3 separate regions of the Homo sapiens genome follow, and all the other regions are linked to region 3. The links come from fine-mapping of genetic effects on gene expression. A gene starts in region 3. Each other region holds a variant in brackets. All regions are shown on one strand. Distances are from middle to middle.

The links. PIP is the estimated chance that this variant, and not a neighbour inherited with it, causes the effect.
Region 1: its variant is fine-mapped to the expression of TUSC3 in prefrontal cortex (GTEx, PIP 0.90).
Region 2: its variant is fine-mapped to the expression of TUSC3 in cerebellar hemisphere (GTEx, PIP 0.98). The same link has a PIP of 0.9 or more in cerebellum.

The regions. Positions count from the first base shown.
Region 1 is chr8:15,734,853-15,739,852 of GRCh38, reverse strand. The region is part of intron 7 of TUSC3 (tumor suppressor candidate 3); the gene reads right to left. Among named protein-coding and RNA genes, the nearest start is that of TUSC3, 200 kb to the right of the region's middle. The variant T/C (reference allele first, on the strand shown) is at 3,050.
Region 2 is chr8:15,610,151-15,615,150 of GRCh38, reverse strand. All of the region lies in intron 1 of TUSC3 (tumor suppressor candidate 3), which reads right to left. Among named protein-coding and RNA genes, the nearest start is that of TUSC3, 72 kb to the right of the region's middle. The variant C/T (reference allele first, on the strand shown) is at 2,547.
Region 3 is chr8:15,538,198-15,543,197 of GRCh38, reverse strand. It overlaps TUSC3 (tumor suppressor candidate 3), which reads right to left and starts at 2,935. Exons shown (of 11, transcript NM_006765.4): 1 at 2,630-2,935. The coding sequence starts at 2,767.

The sequences.
Region 1 (5,000 bases), 200 kb before region 3:
GCAAAGCAAAAAAGCACAAAAGTAATGAAGTAAGATGATATCAGGATTAGATGAAAATGATAACAAGCATTGGGCAAAGAACATAATTGCTAGCCCAGTTTCAGCATGAAATATCTTTAGGCTAAGAATAAAAATCTTCTTCATAAAGCACAGAGCATTCAAATACATTTTACTACTCCATAAACATATTCCAGATTTTACAAATAAGTTTGCAATAACTCACAAAATTGCCATTTTAAAGATGTCTATGAATTTACCTTTATATCACTTATGTTTCACGCTGCTTTAAATCATTTTTATAATTTACTATTTTTGTTGGGAGCAAATGCAGTAACAATATAGCATTTTTCAAATTATATGAGTTAAAAAAATATGCAGACTCCCTATTAACAGGGCAGAAATGGAACAGAAACCCCAAGTCAACATGAAAATTTTAAGATTTCAGCATGTCAAAAACCTCAGCAAATCATCAATTATCATTAATTATATGTGCCAGAAGTATGCTCATGAACTACACTCCTATAAAGCTATTCCCAAATAAATAAGGCAAAACATAAAATACTGAAAAAACTTAATATACATACAAAAATCTATTTTAGAATAATTTATATAGTGAAAAATTAAAATGTAAATGTCCAACTATAACATATGAGATATTTTTGTGACAGGTTAACTAGCCATATAAAATGAAATTGACAAAAATTCTTAATAACAAAGCAAGAGGCCAGGCGCAGTGGCTCACGCCTGTAATCCCAGCATTTTGGGAAGCTGAGGCAGGCGGATCACAAGGTCAGGAGTTCAAGACCAGCCTGGCCAATATGGTGAAATCCCGTCTCTATTAAGAATACAAAAATTAGCCAGGCATGGTGGCGCGTGCCTGTGGTGCCAGCTGCTCAGGAGGCTGAGGCAGAGGAGTTGCTTGAACTTGGGAGGCAGAGGTTGCAGTGAGCCGAGATTGCACCACTGCACTCCAGCCTGGGCAACAGAGTGAGACTCCCTCTCAAAAAAAAAAAAAAAAAAAAAAAGCAAGATATATTAATAGTAATTTTGTCACCATACCAAGTGAAAAGATGTATATGTTTGTATAATATGTATAAAAGTATATATAAAACCTGACTCCTTTAAAACAAATGCAAAGAAATGATTGCAGGGAATGAAAGATAAAAACAGTAACTGTTCACGGGTGAGTTAATAAAAGTGTGGATTTTTGTGTTCTTTATTGACCACAGCCTATAGAGCAGAAATTGCCATACTTTTTCAGGAAAGAGTCACACGTATTTTCCAGCTATGCAAGTCATATGGAGTCTGTTGCTATTACTCAACTTGTTGTAGTGCAAAAGTAGTCACAGGCAATACGTAAATGAATGGGTGTTTCTGTGTTCCAATAAAACTTTATTTACAAAAATAGCAGGCAGGTTGGATTGGGCCTGAACTGGTCCTAGTTTGCCAAACCCTGCTGTAAAGATTTTAAGGTGATGTCAAAAAAACTGTATACCATTATGTCTCACTGGAATTTAGCTTTATTCTTACTTGACAATTTTTTAAAATGCAAGAATTTAGTAAACATTTGTGCACACAACCTTAAAGTGGGAATTTTAAAGCAAAGGGATTACTAGACATAGGTTATATACAACCTCAAGATAAAATGTTTTGTTAGAAATCAGCGGGGTCAGTAAGTAAGTATGATCTCTTTCTCAGAATGTTTCTTGCAAAAGTGAGTTTTCTAAGCTTTAACAAGAAAAGAGCAGTGAGCCGTTTAAAAACCTGATGGGTGTAATTAAGACATATGAATTATACTAAAATGGCTTTAAGCTCGCTAACCCTCCCTATTATTTAAAGATACATTTTTTAACTCAAGGCCTTTAGGAGTTGAGTTGAGAATCGTTTAGCTTAAATTTCATTGTATTAACTGAAACATTTTTGGCTGAAAAAGAGACTGAATAATACTTACCATTTGGGGAAAATTACATTTGTAACATAAAAATCTTAATTTTTATATGCAGGAAGAAGCTAGATGATCATCTCTCACTGTTCTTACGTGGCATTTCTTTCACTGAGTGGAAGGCTGAATGATTAATGAAAGACCCTCCAAATCTGAAAAGATTCTACGTCTGACCAAAAAGAATGTTACGTTCTTTTTTGGTCATTAAATTGATGGGTGTAGCCGTCTAGCTTTGCCTTATTGGAATATCCCAGCATTAAAAGAAAATAACAGATGGACCTCTACCCTTTATCCTATACACACATACTTTGGCCTAGTTTTTGTATTACTTTGCACATTTTTATTGATTAATATCATGGCAATATATATTTAAACTACTGTGCACACTCCAGTTTCTTTGCTGATCCTGTTGATCATTTTCCTACTGCTTAGTCAAAATACTGACATGATCCCACATAAAAAAGCTGCTATTTGTGTAAATTACATACAATACCCAGAGGCACTGAGCATTCTACAGAATTAGTAACGAATATATTTACAAAACATTATAATCCCTTCTCAATTGCATATGCTAAGTTTACTGTTGCTACTAGGAATGGAATCAAGATGTTTTCAATTTAAAGATAGATAAATGTAAATAGACGTTGAAAAAAATGTTAGCACATTATAGAAGACTTACTTAAAGAATTCTAAATCTAAAATTTTCAACTGCATCTATCATTAATTTTTTTCTATAGTATGTTTCTCCTTGGATATAACACATTAAAAGGAATGTTTGCTCTCTATAATAGACTAGAAACAGATGCGAATAAAATCATATTCTTTCATAATAAATGGAAAAAATGTTTTGCTCACAGAAAATGCAATGTTATCTTTATAAGAATAAAAATTTTAAATTGCTAGTATAACCTTTACTTTTATATAAATAATTTTACTTCTAACTAATATTTATTTCATGTCATTTTCTTGAGATCTTCTAACTTAGGTCAGAGATTATATAGTTGACACTAAAGCTTATCCTAGAACTCACGTGTTCTATATCCACTCATACAGAGAGACCATATCTTGGTGAATTCAGTGGGAACATTACTGTCTACGGAAACTAAT[T/C]TGATCTGGTTGAAATTTTAAATAAAATTTTAAATGACATAGTTCTGCCCCTCCTGGACTGACTACTGATTGATAGAAAAAAAGGCAGATTAGTTAGGACAGTAAAATCATACATATCTGCAAACATTTCTCTAAATGTGAAATGAAGATGCCTTTTTATTTTAGAAAACCACTACTTGTAATTACATGTCTGTTTTATTGTGCCATATTTATAAGTGTATTTAGTAAGAAAAGCAGATTTAAGATTATCTCATTAAAATCATACATGAGGTTTTGAATTTTAAGAACATTCTATAATCAAAAACATACCCTACCTTAATTTTATCATTTGATACCACAGTTCAAATTCTCTACTCTGGGAAATTATATAAAGAGTTTTAAACACAATTTTATATATTTCATATGCATACTAATTCTTCCAATTATGGTTTCAAAAACTGCATATTTTCACTTCATGATATTCCACTTAAGATCCATGTGCCTCAAGCCTGAGTCTACTGAATTTTGGACATTTGAAAACTTTTTAAGAACATAATTGTAAATGAAGAATTATTTGCACTGTCATTTGTTGTGTGTCTTCCTCTTCCTTTAGACTGTAAATGCCACACCATCAGACATCTTGTCAGGTTTTGTGACTCTTGTATCTCAGCACAAAGCACATGCACCTGCGTGTATGTGTGTATTTATGTTTACATATCCCCACACACATTTGTTTTTATACTGCTAGAGGATATTGTCTTCTGTACAAAAATACGATAGAATAACTAAAGAAATATCGCCGGGCGTGGTGGCTCATGCCTGTAATCCCAGCACTTTGGGAGGCCAAGGTGGGCGGATCACGAGGTCAGGAGATCGAGACCATCCTGGCTAACACAGTGAAACCCCGTCTCTACTAAAAATACAAAAAAAAACCAAAAAAACAAAAAAAAAAAACCCATTAGCCGGGTGTGGCAGCGTGCACCTGTAGTCCCAGCTACTTGGGAGGCTGAGGCAGGAGAATGGCGTGAACCCGGAAGGCAGAGCTTGCAGTGAGCGGAGATCACGCCACTGCACTCCAGCCTGGGCGACCAAGAAGTGAGACTCCGTCTCAAAAAATAAAAATAAAAAATAAATCAACATATCCACTGTATCTTTATTATGATGATCTTTTCAGATATTTACAACAAATAAACACAATATATAATTTGGTGAGAACATTACTGGCCTATTCACCACAGAGGTTTTGATTTATTGGCAAAATATTACTAAGTAGAAAAACAATGGGTTAAAAGTTTTAAGTTCTTGACTCTTCAACTGATTGGCTTTATGATCTTAAGCAATTTAAACAAATTAATCCCTTTCTCATCAACCAATTATGAGGCCTAATCAATCTTAGGAACTTTTTTGGGCTAAACATTGCCCTCCAAACCTTGTTCTCCTCCATATTTCTATCCTACAACACATAGCTGAACTTCAGAATCATCTCTGATTCCTGTTCTTGAACCTTACTTGTGACATTTATTATCAATTTTGTTTCTTCTTCCTCTAAAACAGCAGCTGAGTCACTCTCCATTCCCTTACTTAGGTTCATGCTGGAGGATGAACCATTGCCAGCAGCCAGAACGACTGCCAGCGACTCCTGCTTCCTTTGCTCTACCTTCTCTACCCTATCCTTAATATTATTACAGGAGCAAGCCTCCATTGGCTTTCTGTTCCCTAAACAGGCATGACGCTACTATTTCCCTTTCCACAGCCAAATTTATCAAGAAGACATGCGGGGCTCAACCTCATAATACTTCAAAAAGAATTCGTAAGTTACCCAATGCCAAATATATAAAATTGGCATATTAATTGCACTGCATCTACTACGTGTAGCTAAGATTCAAATTTCTCAGCAAGGTCTTCATTATCCAGCCTAACCTAACTTTCACCAATCTCCTCAAAATTTGTATTCCAGCCTTGATGAATTTAT
Region 2 (5,000 bases), 72 kb before region 3:
TATCTCTTTGATACACTGATTTCCTTTCCTTTGGATAAATAACCATCATTGAGATTGCTGAATATTATGGTTGTTGTATTTCTGGTTTTTAAAGAAATCTCTATACTGTTTTCCATAATGGCTGTACTAATTCACATTCCCACGATGAGTGTACAAGAGTTCCCTTTACTACGCGTCCTTTTCCGAATTTTGGGGTGGTTTTTTTTTTTTTTTTTGGTCTTTTTAATAACAGCCTGAATAGCTGTACTTGTATACTTTCACTATATATAAAAAGTAAATTGGAAATTTCAATTCTAACCCAAGGAGTCTGTTTCATATATAAATTATTATGTAACTATATCCTTAGCAAAAAAGAATAATAATCCGGCATTTCACAGATTACTATGTCCAAGGCAATTTACAAATTTGTACAAGCATGACTTTAAATTTAAATGTCATGAAAACTTAAATTTTCATCAACTGTTGAATGGATAGACAAAATATGGTAGGTCCACACAATGGAATACTGCTAGGAAATAAAAAGAAGCCAACTTGTAACTGCCACGACATGGATAAGCCTCAGGAACATTATATTCACTGAAAGAAGCCAGACATAACAGACCACACATTTTATTCTCCCATTTATATAAAAAGTCTAGAAAGGCAAATTTATAAAGACAAGAAGTAGATAAGCAGTTGTCTGGGCCTCAAGGTAAGAACAGGGATTAACTGTAAACAGTCACAAATATCTTACTGAAGAGATAAAATGTTCTAAAACTGATTTCTAGTGATGGTTGTACCACTCACTAAAGTTACTGAAAGTCATTTAATCATACACTTAAATGAGTGCATGTTAAGAAATGTAAAACATACCTACATAAAGGCTAGTGGGCATAAGTGAGCCTCATCCAATACTAAAGACCCCCATCTCAGCCTAGACTCAGTGTTTCCATGAGGTGATTAAAAAAACAGAAACCTTAATTAAAATAATATGTGTTATGGCTAATGCAGAGAAAATACTTAGTTCTCTCAGAAACACAATTTTGGTACTAAATAATCTGAGAATTCTCAAGTCTTTAGGGGAGAAAAAAATAATTTTCTCTTCTATCCTTCATGGAGTTCTTAACTCAGACCCCCACCGAAAAAAAAAAAAAAATAACAAAACACCAGAAGCTTCACAAATGTATACTTCCTGTACACATGGGAGATAACACAGGGAAAATGAGTGAATCTCTAAATTAGATCTCAAAGGCCTAATTCAAACTTCTCTGTTTGGGTGTCCCTTTTGGTCTTCTGAAGAAAATTATGCTCATGAATCTCAGCTCCCTATTCCCAGTGAAGAATGAAAGTTGGGTCAAAAAAGTCCATGCTTAAAGGGAATGTTAAAGTTAAAGGAGAACAGAAATATCTATAAGATGGAATATAATACAACTCTTACAAAACCTGAGATAATGCTATATGTATTTGTATTAGTCTGTTTTCACACTGCTAATAAAGACATACCCGAGACTGGGTAATTTATAAAGGAAAGAGGTTCAATGGACTCACAGTTCCACATGGCTGGGGAGGCCTCACAATCATGGCAGAAGACGAAGAACAGCAAAGGGACATCTTAACATGGCAGCAGGCAAGAGACAGCATGTACAGGGAACTTCCCCTTCATAAAACCATCACATCTCATGAGACTTGATGTTTGTAAAACTGCATGGGCCAATGCATGGAAAACTCTTAGCACTGCATCTTACAAATGCTAAGACACTCAAATTTCTTTTCCTTTTCTTCAGGTCATGATCTAACAACAACACAGATCACATTGCTAAAAGAATTATCTGCAGTGGGAATTTTTTAAATCTCATTAATACCTTCAATCTCAGAGTTACCTAATGTTTCTGAGTATTACAAGAAAAGCACTGTGCTAAATTTACTTAAAAAAAAAAAGCACTGTAAGACATGTTACATGAATCCCATTGTCCCCAAATTTGGCACAAATAAGACAGATCCTACTCTCAAGCCCTTAAGGCAAATAAACTCTAGCACTAAAAAGTGTCCATGTGTACACACACACAAACACATATAAAATACATATATATGATATATATATATATATCATATATATAATATGGCTTATATTGATATGCGATGGCTGTAGCTCTGCTCTTAAGTAAACGGCTTAGTGCCAACTCAGGAAGGGATGGTAAAGAATATATTGTTTCTGTGAACATTAACTGATATTGTGGCTCCTTTAAATTCACTGCAGAAGATTCTGAAGTCTAGACTGGTCCGATCAGTGAAGAGTGGGTGATCGGTTGGCTTTGTCTCTTACTGATACAAGATGGGACATACAGTCCAAGATGCCATAAATCTGTCACATCAGAAAAGGAAAAAGAAATCTGTAACTTAGAATCTTCAAAAACAAAACAAAACAAAAAAGCCCCATCCTTGTTACTTTATAAAAAACAAAGGTTAGAAGGTCACATCTATGAATGAAGTTAATAGAATCAGTCATAATACGTTCAGATGCCCATTCCTCTTTCTTATATTTTTTCCTTCTTGTATTTTTATCTTAA[C/T]ATTTTATGAAGGCTTAACTTTATAGCAACTCAGTATAATAAACAAGCTGGCATAATCTATATACCAGTCTCCAAATTATGACACCACTCCATTTTTTCTCAATTCACATTTTACTACAATAACCAATTTATAACCAAAAATACAAGAAATAGTACATTGCATTAAACAATACGTAATACAATGGTTCATTCCAAAGTGAAGCTTAAATAGAATAAGAGCTCACTAATCTCATATTTTTTACTCTTTCTTGTTTGTTTGTTTGTTTCAACATTTTATCCCTAGGAACATGACCAGATGTACCAAGGCAAAAAGATATGTGGTCTCATGTCTTTAACCAAGATGCCTCTGCCAGGGGGGCAGCTATTCACGTGTTTGTTTACCAGTCACATATACAGTACTTATTCAGGTACCTGCTATCTGAATAGCAGGTACTCATCAAAATAGCCATAATAAAACTTGCTTATAGTAATTCACAGCATGCAGATCTGGAATGAGAACAAGACGTACATGTTGAAGGTATCAACTGCTAACCCACAGAAACAATATCATGACCCCTTCTGTTCTTCTTATATTTTTAAAGGAGTCTCTAAGAGAACAAGAAGCCTTTACTTTTCAAGACTCTAATATTTAAGGAGTTCAATGAAAACCCAACGATAAACCAAACATGAGCAGCCAGATGCATATCGTTTTGCATTTAGTAGAAAAGTTATCTTCCATGTTGGAAATTCGATCTTAAAAATCTGTATTCATATTTCTTAATATTATGTCATACTTAACAGATTTAAAAATATATAAAGGGCAATTAATGCTTCTAGGAACCAAAAAATCAGAGATTAAGCACTATACCACCTCATCTACATTACAAACTGATAGTTCAGTAAAGACCACCACTACCTTTAAAGGCACTCAGAAGACCACAATGAGCTATACAGTAAATTAAACAAATACACCATTTTTATCAGAAATATAAAATGCATACAGCACACACGCCATAAAGAAAGCAAAAATTCCAAGAGGTTAATCAGTTAAGAACTCAGCAAATCATGGTCTCTCTAGAGATAATGTAATCAGCAATCCATCAGAAAACAATTATCATTACATTCAAAAGCAAAAAGGTAGCCAGGTACGATGGCTCACGCCTGTAATCCCAGCACTTTGGGAGGCCGGTGCGGGCAGATCACGAGGTCAGGAGTTTGAGACCACCCTAGCCAACATGGTGAAACCTCCTCATCTCTACTAAAAATACAAAAATTAGCTGGATGTGTGGCAGGTGCCTGTAATCTCAGCTACTTGGGAGGCTGAGGCAGGAGAATCGTTTCAACCTGGGAGGCGGGATTTGCAGTGAGCCGAGATCACGCCATTGCCCTCCAGACTGGGAGACAGGGCAAGACTCTGTCTCAAAAAAACAACAACAGCAACAACAAAAAAGTTCTTTGAAATATTTGATACAGAACACTATAAAAATTAAAGAAAGAAATACTGTAAAATCCCAAACCAATTCCACCTCTGGGAAGATCCTAAAGACCTTTTGTTTGTGTAAAGTTATCTAATGAGAAATAGAGAAATTAAGTTATTCTAATATCACACTTTTTTTGAAAAAGAAGCTTTCAGTGGACGGTACTACAATATTCAATTAAGTGAACTTTTTCTAGAGACATATTAAAAATAAGTCCAGTAACACTCTTTTAGTTATGTGTCTATCAACCTGAACTCTCCTCAGAAATTTTCCCTGAGGAGAGATCCACATTTTGACCATCTTTGTACCCCGGAGAGCATCCTGAACACTGGTGGCTCCTGAGAGGCCCTCAAGCCCTCCCTATACCTCTACTGAATGAATGGAAAATTTGTAAAACTTTTACGCTCTAATATAGGAATTGCTAACACAGTAGCCCTATTCAAATGTCACTTTTTTAAAGGGGTTTACTTCAATTTGCCAGTCTCTTTGCTCTATTTATTCTCTGGTTCAAAGGCAAAAAAGAATATTTCGAAGTAACAACTGTTTCCGAAACTTGCATATGTATCTCACTTATATATAAAATCAGTATAACAATAAGAACTTAAGAATTGCTGTTGCCAGATGTTAAATTAATATTCCAAAGATTTAAAATAAATCAAGTTTGCTAGTATTTCCTTATTCATAAAAATTAATAAAGGAAGCAGTGAATTCACAGAAACACATCAACATTAAATTCTACATTGAAAATACCAGAAATGTTTCTCCATGAGAAACTTAACTACTCCCTTGCAGCAATAATTTTAAGAATTCTAATGTTAGATGTTGCTATACCTTAATTTTATCAGCGAAAACATCATGCAGTATACTGAAATATTTTGCATTTGATACTTGTGGTAATAACAAAATCGGATCAATGAATGTATGGAATTTTATGGATTTCAAAGTATGCTATGAAATAAATCCAGTGCCTAAAACGCAAAGCCCCTCATAAAAACAA
Region 3 (5,000 bases):
GTTCCATTGTGCCAAATCTTATCATAGGCATCAGGTTTTAAAGTCAGCTAGACAGAAAGAGACCACATACTGTCAAAATAACCCTGGGCTATCACTAGGAAAATACCACATTGGTGACCACACTTTCCAATATAGCGTGTTTCCCTTCCAATATTGGAAGAGATCACAGTTTGTGAACTTAGTGAGTACCAGATACGGAATGGCCTGTATTTCAGAGATACGCATGCTTATTGAGTAAAGTATCAGAACACCAAGTATTTAACAAACTATAGAAATGATCCCTGAAAGTACAGTCTTGAAAACATCAACTATTTAAGCTCTTATTTTGCTCTTCTTTTCTTCAGTAAAATATACATACACTGTAATACTGTCATACAGTGAAATCAAGTGCTCCTACTTAGGAGAAATAAAACTAATTTGCAAGAAAAACTTTTTTAATCCTCAACAATGTTCTCCCTAATTTTTCATTTCAAAAATATATTTCGAGAAAAAATTTTAATAGAAACATGTTGCTGTAATTTAGATTTAATTATACTAAATCCACAAATGTTTTCACATATTAAAGTCATCTTATTATTGGAGATACTCAGATGCTGTAAACATGTACACTTTTTAGATTTTTTTTTTCCCCTTGTAAACGAAAAACAAAAATGTAAGCACCCTCCGACCTCTGCCCCAGCCATCTGAAAGGGCCCCTCTTCTCCACCGAGGGCATATCCCAAAGCTAACCTGAAAAACCACTTCAGGCGACGATGGGAAAAGTGAGCCAGACATGCTCATTATACCCTCCTTCTTCTTGGAATTCTGGAAAAGCCAACCAGCATTAACATCAACACAGACCTTAGGTCTGATAAGAAACATTTACAATCTATTCTCTCTGAAGTCTGCCACCTGGAGGCTTCATCTGGCTAATAAAACCATGGTCTCCACATTCCTTTCTATTAATAACAATTCTTTCAACCAATTGCCAATCAGAAAATTTTTAAATCTACCTATGACCTGGATGCCCCTCCCCCTTTGAGTTGTCCCACCCTTCCAGATCAAACCAATGTAGACCTTACATGTATTGATCAATGTATTATGTCTCTCTAAAATGTATAAAAGCCAGCTGTACCCTGACCACCTTGGGCACCTGCCATCAGGACCTCCAGAGGCTGTGTCACCAGTGCATCCTTAACACTGGCAAAAAAAAAAAAATTGATTAAGGTCAGTCTTAAAATACTTTGGGGTTCACACCCTTCAAATGAAAATTGGCGTGGTCCTAGGGATCGTCCTAGGAGATAAAACATCACAATTTCCATGGAGTTCTTCATCATCTTTTATTGCCCTTTGCTTTGGTAATCCACAAAAAAAACTGTCTACTTTTTCTTCACTCTTCTACCTTTCTCGTGAACTCCTAAATCTAAAACTCTTGGAATATGGTATACAAATACCAAGTGCTAAAAAAAATCATTAATTTATATTTGTAAATACAATTTCAGTTTAACAGTGGTTCTCTAAATCCCTTAGCAGAACTTCACCAATAATTTCATATGACCTACTTTCATGTTAAAATTTAAAAGCTGAAGAGAGGTACATTAGTTAAAATTGAACACACAATATTTGTTTCAGACTAAGAATAAAGAGAAAGGGAAACAATCACTCTGCATATGAGGGTATTTTTTCACTGTCTCTACCCAGCTATTAAAATTTTGTTAATATCTTAAACCCAATTCAGATTTTGAGCCCTGTGTAGGTGTACAACTTAACCAGGAAAAACTATCTTCAATTATGTAAGCAGATAACTCTCACCAAAATGGTCCACAATTAGAAACCCTAGTCACATTCCCGAAATAACTATTTTTGCTGAAGCAGCTAGATCAACTATCCATGATGGATAATTAGAACTTACAAACACTCCACCTACTTTAAATACAACCAGTCACTTCAAATCTCAACCTTTTCAAAGTTAATGGTGGATTAAGATTGAAATCAGATTGAATGAACTTCAGAAATAAATCCACATAAAATAAATGGCAGGTTATTTTCACAAGTATACACTGAGTTCAACGTAAAGTAAACATACAGGATAACTTAAAACACACTCTCAATATGTTCTGTTGTACTTGCACAAAATAAAAAATGCAAGCTTATTCTCACAAGTATACACCGAGTTCAACATAAACAAAAATAAACATACAGTGTAACTTAAAACACACTCTGCACAGGTTCTGTTGCTTCTTGAAATGGGTAATGAAGGGAGCAGAGTAAGAAAATAAGGAAAACATATTTCCTGCAGGCTTATAAATACTTCCAAAGGGTATTTTCACATCCAACACACCCCTTTTAGTGGCACCATTGCTCTAAGCTGGGCTTCCAGCTGGGAATAAAGGCGCCCTGGGTCTGAAAGGTGTGAGGTGCTCAGAAGCAGTCAAGAACACGCTTTGCCGTCGTTTTTCAAGTCAGAACCCTGCTAACTCCACGTCCCGGAAACGCCCCAGGGCCTCCCACCCTCGCGGCTCCCGCCCCAGCGCCGGCATCGCCCACGCCGGCGACCAGGCTGCCTAGCAACACGGCAGGGCTGCCTGGCAACGCGGCCCACCCTGGCCCGCCCCCGCCCACAGGGGAAGGCCAAGGGGATCCATTCTACCTCCTTTTTCTTCTGTCCTCCCCCGAGCTGGATGCAGAGCAGCAGCAGCAGGAGAAGGAAGGGAAAGCTCCCGGTGGGCAGGTACCGCAGCCGCCGCCCCGCTTGCCTACGGCGTGAAGGAGCGCCCCGGGCCCCCATCGCGGCAGGGCAGTGTCTCCTCCACGCGCGGTAGCCGTGCGCGCCCAGCTCCTACCGCGCACCACGCCTGCCCGGCCAGCCTCCGGGAGCCCGCTGGCTGGGCCCTCCGGGATGGCAGCGGCTTTGCGAGGGACCCGGGCCGCGGCCGAGGACGCAGAGGAGGAGACTGACAGAGCATCCGGTTCACCGGGAGAAGACCTGGAAAGGCGCGGGATGGGGGCAGGAAGTGGGCGTGGCGAGGGAGCCAGGCTTCGGGGGCGCGGCGTGCGCTCCCGCCCGGAGCTTGCCTTTCCCGGACCAGCGCTGAGGAGAGGAGTGGTCCTTTGGCCCTGGGACCTCAATCTGAGGCCATCCTGCTACTGAACCCAATTACTGGGTAGTCCAGCACTTTACCTGGGGCCTAGCACAGAAAGACCTGAATGCCTTCTTGGATGATGAAGGGGAAGCTTTGGGGAATGACAACCTGGCCCCTGCGGTCCCCAGCAATCTCTATTCCCATTGAGATCATTATTAGGAACACAGCTCTTCTCCTTCAGAGCCCTGGGAAACCATCTAACTCCAGAGTCCCCCGATGCACAGAAGCCGCCCCACAACTTCACAACTGTTCCTTCCAGCCCCACTGGAAGGCCTGAGGCACAACCTAGACTCCACTTCATTCAATGACTCATTCAGCATCCATGGAGTGCATAAGTACAGAGCACCGTACTAGCTACTTTTAATATAAAAACGAATAGACTTACTTCAATTTCTATTCTATGAATATTTTAAGAACCATAGCAGACTGGACATGGTGGCTCATGCCTGTAATCCCAGCACTTTGGGAGGCTGAGGCAGGTGGCTCACCTGAGGTCAGGAGTTCAAGACCAGCCTGCCGTAACATGGGGAAACCCCATTTCTACTAAAAATACAAAAAGTAGCCGGGCATGGTGGAGCGCCTTGCAGTTCCTCTACTTGGGAGGCTGAGGCAGGAGAATGGCATAAACCCGGGAGGCAGAGGTTGCAGTGAGCCGAGATCACTCCACTGCACTCCAGCCTGGGAGACAGAATGAGACTCTGTCTCAAAAAAAAAAAAAAAAAAAAAAAAAGAACCATAGCAGCAGACTGTATGTTGAACGTTTGATATGGGCCTGATCCGTTCTAATGCATCATGGTTTTTATTACTCTAGTATCTAGAGATTTCTTCACTTGTGCCATGAACACCTTTGGTAATGTGATAAAACCTGTAGACGCCTTCTTAAAATAGCACATATTTCTAAACGCATGAAATTAAATACATAGTATTAGCCAGGCACGGTGGCTCACACCTGTAAACCCAATGCTTTGGGAGACCTATGCAGGAGGCTTGTGTCCAAGAGTTGGAGAGCAGCCTGGGCAAGATAGTGAGACCTTGTCTTTACGAAAAAAAAAAAAATTAACAGCTGGGTATGGTGGGGAGTACTTGTAGTCCTAGCTATTCCAAGACTGAGGCTGGAAGGATCACTAGAGCCCAGGAGTTTGAGGTTACAGTGAGTTCCGATCATGCTACAGCACTCCAGCCTGGGAGACAGAGCAAAACCCTGTCTCCAAAAATATATACAGAATATAAAAATATTATATATATAATACTTAAGGAATATATACGTATAATTGTTCAAGATATCTGCAACAACTTACTGAGTATGAAAATAATTTCTGTAGGAAACAAAGTTGTAGGTACTGATAATACTACTGTGGTTTGTTGCCTGCCTTTATAATTCAAAGAAACGAAACTGTTGTGAGGTTAATAGACATAAAGTTACGATTTTTTCAATACAAAGTTCACAGATGCTGAAATTTCATGGACTCCAGATTAAGAACGCTTGCTCCACAACAACCCTATCAACTAGGTTCCACTGTTAACGATTTTCAGATAAAGAAATTAAGGCCCAGAAAAAATTTGAACATTGACAGTCTGGCTCTACAGTCATGCTTATGCTACGATGCCTTTGTTAAAGGAGTTTACAAATATATATCACTTTTCTGTATCGCAAGCTTTTGATTTCCCACTATTATGTGAACATTTTGCCTGAATTATCACTCCTGTTAAAAACTTTAGACAAAATAAACTTTACACCTTATTTCAGCAAACAACAATTCATAAATCTGCAGCACTCTGAACCAGAAGTGTTCAGAAAGCTCAGCTCCAGTGGCCTGAGAGCAAGCTTCAATAGACTAAACATAAAAACAAAGTAAGGAAATTACCTAATTGGCTACA